Homo sapiens: one gene and its partners. The protein of the gene in region 1 interacts with the protein of each later gene in a biochemical or structural test. Each region holds a gene or a part of one and is shown on either strand. Other genes may lie near its edges.

Region 1 (3,749 bases):
GAAATATCACGTGGCCAATCACCCCTTTTTTCCTTAAAAACAAGGAGCAAATACAAAGTAATGAGCTATTTTCACGTGTGGCTCTTAAACTGGCTTAGACGACAAAAAAAATTTTTTTTTCTAAAAATATTGAGTAATGCTAGTATTGTTAAGTGTATAGCTTCCATGGTGACTACTCTAAAGTATAAGACTTATTTTAGATAAGTGTATAAAATATTTTTCCTTTAAAGATGGATAACCAGCCCTACACAATTTAGTCTTCTCTAACCTTCCTTTCCCATGCTGATGCTGATTTTATGTACTCACGCTCACCCTGATCTAGTTACGCTAGTTTTTTTTGTTTTGTTTTGTTTTTTTTAGACAGGATCTGGTTATGCTGCTCAGACTGGTCTGGAACTCCTGGGCTCAAATGATCCTCCCACCTCAGCTTCTTGAGTAGCTGGCACTACAGGTGCAAGCCACTATGCCTGGCTCACACCCTTGTCTTCTTGTAGTTTCTTGCAGTTGTAGGCACGCTCCCATCTCAGGGCCACTGCACTTACTATTCCCTCTGTGTATAATGTCTTGCTCCAAGGAGACCTGCAAGGCTTGCTGTGCTACCTCCTTCAGGTCATTACTCACTTTAACTATTTATCATCTTCTCAATGAAGTCTTTTCTCACTACCCTTTAAAACTGCATCTTGGCCAGGTGTGGTGGCTCCCACCTGTAATCCCAGCACTTTGGGAGGCGGAGGTAGGTGATCACCTGAGGTCAGGAGTTTCAGACCGGTCCGGCCAACATGGTGAAACCCTGTCTCTACTAAAAATACAAAACTCTACTGGGCGTGGTGGCGTGTGCCTGTAATCCCAGCTACTCAGGAGGCTGAGGTAGGAGAACCACTTGAACCCAGGAAACAGAATTTGCAGTGACCTGAGATCGCCCCACTGCACTCCAGCCTGGGTGATGAGAGCAGAACTCCATCTCAAAAACAAAAAACAAGAAACAAAAAGCAAAAAACTGCATCCTCCTCCGAACCTCATACACATATCCCATTTATTCTCCCTTCCCCTTCCCTGCTTTATTTTCCTGTTTGTGTGTAAAACTGTTTATTAGGGGAAATTTCAAACATACACAAAAATAAAGAGGAAGTAAGAAACCTCATGTATCCATATAGCATCTACCTTCAGCAATTTTCAATATATGGCCAATCTTGTTTCATCTATGTTCCTCTCCCTTTCAATATTTTGAAGTAAAAACCCACACATCACATTTTAAGTTGTAAACACTTCATTATACATCTCTAAAAGAACACTTAAAAAGTACATTCTCACACCTGAAAAAATGGACAAATCCTTTTCATTAAATATCCAGAGTCTAAATTTCCCCAATTTTGAATAAATGTCTTTTTACAGTTAGTTTGCTCAAAGCAGGATAGAACTAAGCTTCATACATTGCATTTGGTGGAAAAGCCTCTTAAGTCTCTTTTAATCTTATAGTTCTCCCTCCCTATTTCTTGCTATTAATTTTTTGAATAAATCAGGTCATTTTTCTTTTATTTATTTTTTAACTTCTATTGTTTTGAGGCAGGGTCTCGCTCTGTTGCCCAGGCTGGAGTGCAGTGGTGCAATCATGGTTCACTGCAGCCTCAATCTCCCAGGCTTAAGTGATCTTCCCACCTCAGCTTCCCGAGTAGTTGGGACCACGTCCAGTTAATTTTTTAAGAAACTTCTTTGTAGAGACAAGGTCTCACCACGTTGCCCAGGCTGGTCTTGAACTCCTGGACAAGAGGGATCTTCCCACCTCAGCCTCTCAAGGTGCTAGGATTACAGGTGTCAGCAACTGCGCCCAGCCATTTTTCTTAAAACGCAATGTATTTTATTTATTTTATGGTTTGTGTCTTATTACTAGAATGTAAACACCATGAAAGCAGAGATTTTAGTCTATGAGGTATCAGCATCTAGACCTGTGACATGTAAACGGCATCAATAAACACTGAATGTATTTGGCATCCATGCCAAAAGTCCACCGCTCACCAACAGCAGAAATTGCTAATCACAGTACTCTTTCCTGCTAAGTTTGAACAAGGACTCCCAGTTTTCTAAACACAGCACTCTAGGCAGCCACCACTAAACAATCAGATTTGGTACCCCAAACGAAATTTATTTGCTGTCCCTGCTTTAGCCCCCTTCAAAAGTGTACTATCCCTAAAACAGATTTCATTGCACCTTGTATGTTGAAATTTTAGCATGATAAATTACTGACTGTGTTTCTTGTCAACTACATTTAAACATTTCTTAGCTTATTTTAGACAGCTTAGGGGAAAAAGAAAACTGTAGCCAAAAAAATAATAGAAAAAGAAACTGCAGAAGATGGTGGGAAACCGCGGGTATTACATATTTTTAGAATTAGCAACATCCCAAGAGGCTCATTATAAAATAAAAATTAGCAACAAATTTTCTGAAAAGGAAGTAAATTACATGTGTGTTGAATTAATTTTTTTAAAAACTACATGAAGATTAACTGGAGGATGAAGACAGATGTCAGGATTTTCCCATTTATAGGCATCAGCAACACATTCTATTTTTCTGCAACTGGTATTTTGAGGTGTAAAGGTATTACAGGGGCGATACAAGAGTACTATGTAGAACCCCATTTCTCTGAAGTGGAGTTTATGTGGCAAAAAGAATCTAAAACATCTAGTACAACATTCCGAAAAATTGTCAATTCTTCTTAAGAGTCATTTACAATTCATTTCTGTTAAACTACCAGATGAAGCTCTCTTTCTCTAGGCTTATTTCTGAAGGTAGGTAAGCTAACTGAAAGACTCCAATCAGATGTTTATGTTTTGATTACTTTTTTCTATCAAAAAAGAAAAAAATTAGAAATTCCCTGACATCCATTCAAGAAACACTGTGCTTTCTCTTTATTACCTGTAAATTCATTAAACAACAAAAAGTATTTAGGACCTACTAAACATAGTATGTTAGGCAGTTATTTTCAGCCTTTGAAGGAAAAATAGAAGTGATCTACTCAAGACAACATGCAAAAAAAAAAAACAAACAAACAAAAAAAAACCTAGGGGCAGAACTTGAAATCATATCCAGATCTTTCAATGACCAATAATTCTTGTCTTGAGGTTCCCACACATTAGTCTAGGGAAATATTCTATGGCACAGGTCACACTTAAAACTAAGAAAATATAATAAGCACTTCCCCTCCCCCACTACCACAAGTGTAAAAAAATCTCCAAGAACCCAAATCCCTTGAAAGAATGACTTCTATTTACTTTGCCTGTGTAATATATTCAGAGGGAATCTGGAAAAGATGGCTAGAAATCTATAAACAGAAAGTGCTAAGTGGAATTCACTGTTTATAGACTTCAACTAGAATTTTGTCCCTTATATATAAATGCTGCCAACAATCTTTACATTGTATTATTTAAAAACATCTTCATCAGGTTTTCTTCACTTTGCTGATTTTCTTCCTTTTCTCACTGGCTTTTAAATCTGCTTTACTGTCCTCAAAGACATAAATGTAACTTTTGGAATAACATGTTTCCCGCCCCCACCCCAAAGGAGCTCCTAAAGCCACCTCAGTGCCATCATATATTAGTCATTATGAAATTTTAATATTTACAGTTAAATATATCTGTATAATAAAATAATCCAAAAAGCCTTTCTAACCTAATAAATACTAGGATAGGTCTACATTGATGTATTATGGTAAAATGTGTATGTATATATTAGTTTTCAATTCTAAGTCTTTGGCT
Region 2 (3,749 bases), on another chromosome or scaffold:
CCCAGAACCACCAAGGGGCCAGGGACCCTACGCCAGAATGAGGGCTGAAGGAGTTGTGTGGGGAAGCGAGGGGGAAAGGCTGGAGAAGTGGTGAGGGTTATCTGATGGCCTTCCAGGGTCCCTGCCAGGGTGCGACACTCACCTCCTTCAGCCTCTTCACAGCATACACCGTGTTCCTCATCACCGCCCGGTACACGCACCCAAAGCCACCCTCCCCGATCTTGAGCTCCTCCGAGAAGTTGTGGGTGCCCCGGGAAATCTCACAGAGGGGCCAGCAAAACGGAAAGGGGCGGGCTCCCTGCAGGAGGGACACTGAGCTCTCTGGGCCTGGCTGTGGGAAGAGAGCCTGGATCAGGTGGGGTCCCTGTCTCTTCCCTTCTGCCCAAGGCTCCAGGCTCTCCCCACCACAGCTGCCTCCCAGCTGACCCAGCTTGGCTGACTGGGGCTCTGCGCTACATCAAAGGCTGAATTCCTTCCTCCTTGTCTCGAATCTTCCCTGGGGGGCAGGGGACACCTACCTTGGTAGAAGAAGGGGCTGGAGATGGCGGTGGAGGCCACAGGGAAGCAGGGCTTGGGACCAGGCCGAGCTCAGGCCCTGAATGGGTCTGGGAGCCTGGAAAAGCTTCATAAAGACACCAGTGAGAGGCAGGCAGAGACCAGCAGCAGGGTCTACAGCCGTGGCCGTGGTCAAGGTGGGCTCTTCTTTGGGTCCACCGAGCCTAACAACCGGGCCCTCTTACCTGGGGAGAGGAAGGTGGAGGCTGAGGATGGCAACTTCCGGGGGCTCCAGGCCTCGGCCTCGGCGGGTGCAGGGATGCTGCTGGGCCTCGGGGCAGTGGTGCCTGGGGACGGAAGCGGGGCGGGAGGGTGCCCTGGGACGCCAAGGAAGGAAAGGAAGGTTGAGGCCCGGGTGGGGGAGCCCCGTGGGGCCCGCCGGCCTCCCAGCCGTGGGGTGCCCGGAGTCCCGCGCTCACAGGCTGTGATGATGTCCCGCGCACGGAGCAGCTGCAGGTGCGTGAGGATGTGCACGAGGTCGGCCACACGGGCGTTGCGGTTGATCCAGGGCCACAGGACGCTGGCCGTGCGCTGCCCGGAGCGCTCGCACAGCCGCAGCTCGGTCTGGTCGCGCACGATCAGGGCGGCTGCGGGGCGGGGGGCGTCAGGCGTCGGCGCCAGGAGCCCGCGCGCCTCCCGCCCCCCGGCAGCCCGCCGCCACCCACCGAACTGGCACCAGTCGGCGGGCTCCAGGGCGTCCATCACTTTGTAGAAGCGGCACATGACCCAGGGCGGCACCTCGTACAAGAAGTGCTGGGCGCCGGGGGCTGCGGGCTCCCCCGGGCCCGGCCCCCCGGCCATGGCTGCCGCCGCCGGGCCGGGACCTGCCGGGGCCTCTCAGGGCCGCGGCGGGCGCGGGCCTGGGCCGGCCGGGTCCGCGGACACTGACTCACTTCCCCTTCGAGCCGGCCTCGTGCGACGCCCGGCGGGGCGGAAGGGGCGGTGCCCGGGCCCGCCGCCATCTTGCGCGCCGCGGCCGCGCGCTGGGTCACACGGGGGCGCCCCGCGCCGGGGAGGGCCCGGGTCCCGGCGGGTTCCGCGAGCGGCGATCGGCCTCCCGGGCTCGCCCGGGCGGGGCTCTGGAGGACGAACGGCGGCTCCCGGCGTTGGGGACAGAGGGCAGGGCGGAGGCCCGGGCTGCTCGGAAAGGGGCCGGGGCCGGGCCTTCCGAAAGCTCCTGGGCGGCCCTGCCGGAACCCTGCTCTCCACTGCGGCCTGCAGGGCTGTTACCAGGAGCCCTGCCTGCCCGCCCCACGTCTAGCCCCCTGCACACGGCAGCAGCCTTGAGCCATTCAGTCTCCTTAGGTGTCCTGAAATATGCCGAGAACGCTGCCCGCCACAGCCGTGAGTGTATGCGTTGCTGCTGCCCCAGCCCTCATTTGGCAAGGGTGAGCTCAGGCAGCTGTGGTGAAGGCTTCCTGAGCCCGCCGGCAGAGCTCCTGCCACCCCGTACCTGTCCCCTCCTGGGCATCGTCCTTGATTACTTGTCTGGACCGCCACCCCCGGTCCCCGCCCTGAGATGGGGAAGACCCCACAAGCAGCAACGCAGACTTACTCTTTTGTTTCTCCAGCTGGATGTCTCCTCCAGCGACAGTTCCCCTTGCCCTCTTGATCCTGACAGCGAAGGGGTTCCCCACCCCTAGCCCTACAGACTTAGGACTTTTCCTAGAAACGAGAAGTGCCCAAGGCCCACAGCTGGCCCCTGTTGGAGTCTCTTTCCTGAAGCCACCACCACTGTGGCCACTCCCAAGGAAGATGCCAACCATACCATGAAACCCATGGCTTCTCACGGGACAGACTTTACTGAGATGTACCAACTCAAGTATCTGAAATGACTGCACACCCATGCTAACCTCCACGGGGGCACTTGGTCCTACTTACACACAAAGGCCCATCAGCTCACGGAACAGGGCTGGCATACGAGATGCTCAATGCATACAAGTTGACTTTTCAACCCTGGGATCTACCTTTGAAGGCCAGGCCTTCCGAGGGTACCTTCTAGCATGTGCATGTGAAGCTGGACTCCTTTGAGCAGTTGTCTCCTCCAGCCCCTTACCAACCTGGTGAGGCTGCTCCTGAGAGCCAAGGAAGCCAGTAACAAGGGGGCCCCCTTTGGGCAAACCCCTCAGCCTGCCCTTGCCTGGTCAGAGAACCACGTTAGCAGTCAACAGAGGGCACGTGAGGGTCCTGGCCAGAATGAGACACAGGAGGAGCCACAGCCTGCGGGGGTGGGGGTGTCCAAAAGCACCACAGCACATCCAGACCTAGGGGGTGCCCCTACCATACGGGTCTGGAGCAGGGAGGTTGTGCTGCAGGCTGACTCATGCCAGGCCCTTCCCGTCACACGCTGGAGCAGTGTGCCTGGAGAGCACTGGCTTGGAAGAAGCTGAGGGGCCAGCGAGGCCAGCATATGGAGGAGGCTTCCCTTGGCCGCTCGTGGCAGGCCTGAAGGCAGCTACCTGTGTCCAGGGACAGCCAGATCCAATGAGGAAACGCAGCACCATGCTGTCATGTGAGCTGGAGGGGGACTTCTGTCTTATAATGAAAGCCCAGACCTTGAGTCACTTTCACAGAGAGATTTATCGAGAATGCTAACAGCACAGGATACAGTACTTCCCAACAAAAGGTGCAAACGCGTCACTTAGAAAGGCATGCTGAGTATTCTTTGCTTTCACATGTATTAAAAAACTTACAAAAATAAAATAAAACTGCGTGCTGCCCATCTTTTCCAATAGTAAAAGAACCTTATGAAAAAATCACTTGATTTTTACAACAAAAGACACAAACGGACATTTTTATGTAAATTTATAAGGCAAACTCTTTATATAATAAATAGGTTACAGGGATTCAGTGGGGGGGGGGTGTTTTTGAAACGTATACAGGTACATTCAGACAGGTTTACTGAAATGGTACAAATTTCCTTAATAAATTGCCTTTTGTTTTTAAATATATCAGTGCTTTCAGTCATTTGGCTATACACAAAGAACCTTTTTTCTGAACACTACAAAAAAGCAATCAATAATTTTTGTTTTTAAAACGACCTACTTATTTTCTAAAGTAATTGTCCCAAAACACAAAAACTGAAGGTGAATACGATACAGGGCTTTTAGAGACATCTCCAGCTAAGTGTGTCCCGGCCTCTCCCTGTGCCCCAAGTGCACCTCTCCCAACCTCAGACAGGTTTCCAGGCTGGA
Region 3 (3,749 bases), on another chromosome or scaffold:
TGAGTGGGTCTAGTCTACCTACCCAAAACTCTAGTCACATATTTTATTTTAAAAAGTGACCTTTCCAAGTTATGTAAATATTTACTTATTTTTTTTCATAGCTTCTCTGGTTGTTTGCATGTCCTATTGCCTCTAATCACTGATTAATACAATGAAGATGGTTCTTAATATATCAGGAGGAAACAACTCACAAAAGAGCTATTGCCAGTGTGCCTGTGATTGCTGCACAAACAAAAGAGCAAGAGCTTTCTTTTAAAGCACTGGTAGTCTTAATGACAAATCCCTAGTGGAAAGCACTGAAAATGTTACTTACGTGTATCACTAACTTCTAAACTTTTATTTTCTGGACTTGAGGAGTCAGGTGGCATATAGCTTTGTTCAAGATTCTGCACAGGTGTCATCAATGTCCTGTCTTTGTCACAGAAAGGCATCTGTTTTTGCTGAACTGTTATAGCTTCTTTAGAAGGTAGTGTATTAGCAGTTTTGGGAACAGCATCTAACAAATGAAGTAAGATACAAGTGGTTTTTCAGTAAGAAAAAGTGGTTGTGAAAAAGTTAAACTAGAAACTTGGTTCATTTAATATCATTCCAGTTTCTACAGGTTGGTCTCATATTCTCACAGCACACACAAGAAGCTGCCTAGTAAGAATCTGTAAGTTATAATGAAGATGGGTAAAGAGAGTAAGGCAGTGTTTTCAAACAGTGATCCATGAGCCACCTATATCAGAGGCACTGAAGCACCTGTTTAAGAATATAGACCTTAAACCCAATTCCAGAATTCTGATTACATAGATTTGGAACAGACCCTAGGAAACTACATGTTTAACCAGAACCTAAGTGATTCTTATGCATGATAAAGGTTGAGAACCACTGGTGTGAAAGGCATCAAAGGAAAAAAAGAAAGCTTATAAGGAAGGCAACTAGACACTACCACATCAGAATACAATTTTTTAAAATTATGATTATAGAGTCCCATCAGGGTAGAAGTTGAAGATGAAAAAAAGGAAGAACTCAAAATTATAATTACTTTCTTACAGCCTAAGCCAGAAGTATGAAGTCTTTCCTTCTAAACTTCCTGTTGGCACAAAACTATCTAACTCTTACGAAGCTTCTATCACCTTAGCAGCAGAGTCCACAGTGTCCTTTGTCTGTGCTGCTTTTTAAAGAGTTGAGGAGTGCTGAAAGAAAGGGACTCTCAAATGTAAGCTTCATCTACTATGAGAAAAAAGGAAGAGTAAGAAGAAACATTTATATTTCTGCCATTTGTCTTTCCACCCTAATTGTGGACACCCTGGTCACAATCAGTTTACCTGGGAGCAAAAGACTCGCAGGAGCAAAAAATTCATTTTGGATCAAAAGATCCACAAGATCACCAACTGTGCAATTTGTGGTGCCCCAGTCAAACAGTAATTCAGAAGTGGGACTTTTTCCAGTTTGAAGTAATGCTTCAAATCTCCTTAAAAGTAAGTAACAAAGAAACAAAATTAGTCTATTGTCTTAGTCCATTTTGTGCTGCAATAATAGAATACCACAGACAGGGTAATTTATAAATAATAGTTAATTTGGCTCACGGTTCTGGAGGCTGGGAAGTCCAAGATCGAGAGGCTGCATCTGGTTAGGGCCTTCTTGCTACATCATCTCATGGTGGAAGGGCAGAAGGGCAAAAGAGCATGCACACGTGCATGTGAAAGAGAAAAAAAAAGAGAGAGAGAGAAAAAGAAAAATAGGGCCTAACTTATCCTTTTATCAGAAACCCACTCCCTAGATAACTAACCCACTCCTGCCATGACGACATTAATCCACTCATAAGGGCAAAGCTCTCATGGCCTAACTACCCTTTAAAGGTCCCACCTATCAACCCTGTTGCAATGGGTATTAAGTTTCTAACACATGAACTTTTGGGGACACATTCAAACAATAGCATTTATAAACTGAGGTCATATGAAAATAGGTGTTGATCTCCCCTGCCCATTTTGCCCACAGCATCTCCTACAACATTAAAGAAAAGGGACAACAAGAGAACCAGCAAGAATTACAGAGAGACAGGAAAGATAGGAGGAAAAAAGATGCCAAAGATGATGATAATAATTTACTGGGTACTTACTGGATATTTACTTAGTGGGTTATAGGATGCACACACATGAGCATGTTCAAAGATATTATGATTATCATATGAATTTACTAGTGAAAAAGCCAGGCTTGGAGAGGTAGAGTAACCAGCCCATAGCCACACAGCCAATATGATGTATCCAAGTTGAGGTACAAATTCAGATCTCATTTGACAAAAGAGTGTATTCTTAATCTACTAGCAATATTACTTCCCACATGACTTAAGACTCTGATAGCTATATAATTTTTAATAAATGCACCTGCTTAATTAAAGAAACAGAACACACAAAAACTTAGGAAATTATTCCTTTGATCTTAACTGTAATTCAATTAAATTGAAAAAAATCACAAAGTCGGCTTTCAACCCATTTCTTTCCATTTCTTTAAAATCAAAAATTAGTTTTGAAAAGTAACATTTAAAAATTTAACCAATATTGTTTCTTTCTGTTTTTCCTCTAAAGATTTTATTTTTAAAAATTTCAAACTTACAGAAAAGTTGAAAAAATGATAGAATGAACAACCATTCACCTAGATTCACCAATTGAATAATTGATAAAATTGTGCCATATCTGGGCTCTTGTGCATTCTCTCTTTCAATCTGTGTCTGTGGGTGTGTGTGTTTTAGAATACGGGCCAGATGTCTTATAGAATGGGTCTAACAGCCTAGATTTATCTGACTACTTTCTCATGATTAAATTCAGATTAAGCATTTTGGTAGAAATACTACATAGGTATAATGTGCCTTTCCCATTGTATCACATCCAGGGGTACATATTAGCATTTTGTACCATTATTATTGGTGCTAAAGTTTGATCACTTGGTGAAGGAAGTGTACTTCAGATTTCCTCATTAAAAATGTACCCTTCTCTTTCATACTTCACAAGTAATTTGTGTACAATACTTTTTCTCTATCTATTGAGGGGGTCTTGCTCTGTCACTCAGGCTGGAGTGCAGTGGCATGATCATGGCTCACTGCAGCCTTGACTTCCTGGGCTCAGGTGATCCTCCCACCTCAACCTCCCAAGTAGCTGGGACTACAGGCGTGCACTACCACACCCAGCTAATTTTTTGTAGTGATGGGGTTTTACCATGTTGTCCAGGCTGGTCTTGAACTCCTGGGCTCAAGCAATCTGCCCACCTCGGTCTCCACAAGTGTTAGGATTACAGGCATGAGCCACTGTGCTCAGCCTATAATACTTTAAAATCTTGTGCATATCCTGCTCACATGCACGAGAACAACCACCTTTCACCTTATGCTTTTAGGTTCAGTGATGAGCCTTGCATGAATCAGTTACTCATTGGTGGTTGCAAATAGGTATTTTTCTCATTCTACCATTCTTTTCACAATTATTTGCAGGTATTATTCTGTAAAGAAAAGCTTTTTCTGTCACAGGAATGAGTCTTGGAAAAAAGAAAAAAAAAAGAGAAGAGCTTTATCTTCCTGCCACCACTGCCCCAATTATCTTCCATAAGTTTTTAACAGTAATATCAAAAAATTATCTTTAAACATTGGCTTAACACAGTTTAAACTTAAGCTTCTTTCAAGTAATTTAACATGTTCGCTCTTCTTATGAGGAAATATTTCCTGCAAGGGAGCCAAGTCTTTTAGGTTCTTTCCCAGATTAATGCTGAAAATAACA

The links.
Region 2: of the proteins of PELI1 (region 1) and IRAK1, one has a biochemical effect on the other in vitro, tested with the Homo sapiens proteins (5 studies listed by BioGRID and IntAct, with this or other methods).
Region 3: of the proteins of PELI1 (region 1) and IRAK4, one has a biochemical effect on the other in vitro, tested with the Homo sapiens proteins (4 studies listed by BioGRID and IntAct).

Annotation. Positions count from the first base shown.
Region 1 is NC_000002.12:64,137,764-64,141,512, forward strand, and holds part of PELI1 (E3 ubiquitin-protein ligase pellino homolog 1), read right to left. Parts: intron 3,024-3,749; exon of another isoform or gene 1-3,023. UniProt on the Homo sapiens protein: E3 ubiquitin ligase catalyzing the covalent attachment of ubiquitin moieties onto substrate proteins. Involved in the TLR and IL-1 signaling pathways via interaction with the complex containing IRAK kinases and TRAF6.
Region 2 is NC_000023.11:154,018,457-154,022,205, forward strand, and holds the start of IRAK1 (interleukin-1 receptor-associated kinase 1), read right to left. Parts: upstream 1,447-3,749; 5' UTR 1,357-1,446; coding exon 1,221-1,356; coding exon of another isoform or gene 1,143-1,220; coding exon 975-1,142; intron 873-974; coding exon 741-872; intron 623-740; coding exon 519-622; intron 332-518; coding exon 143-331; intron 1-142.
Region 3 is NC_000012.12:43,768,927-43,772,675, reverse strand, and holds part of IRAK4 (interleukin-1 receptor-associated kinase 4), read right to left. Parts: intron 1,639-3,749; exon of another isoform or gene 1,572-1,638; intron 1,457-1,571; coding exon 1,311-1,456; intron 497-1,310; coding exon 314-496; intron 1-313.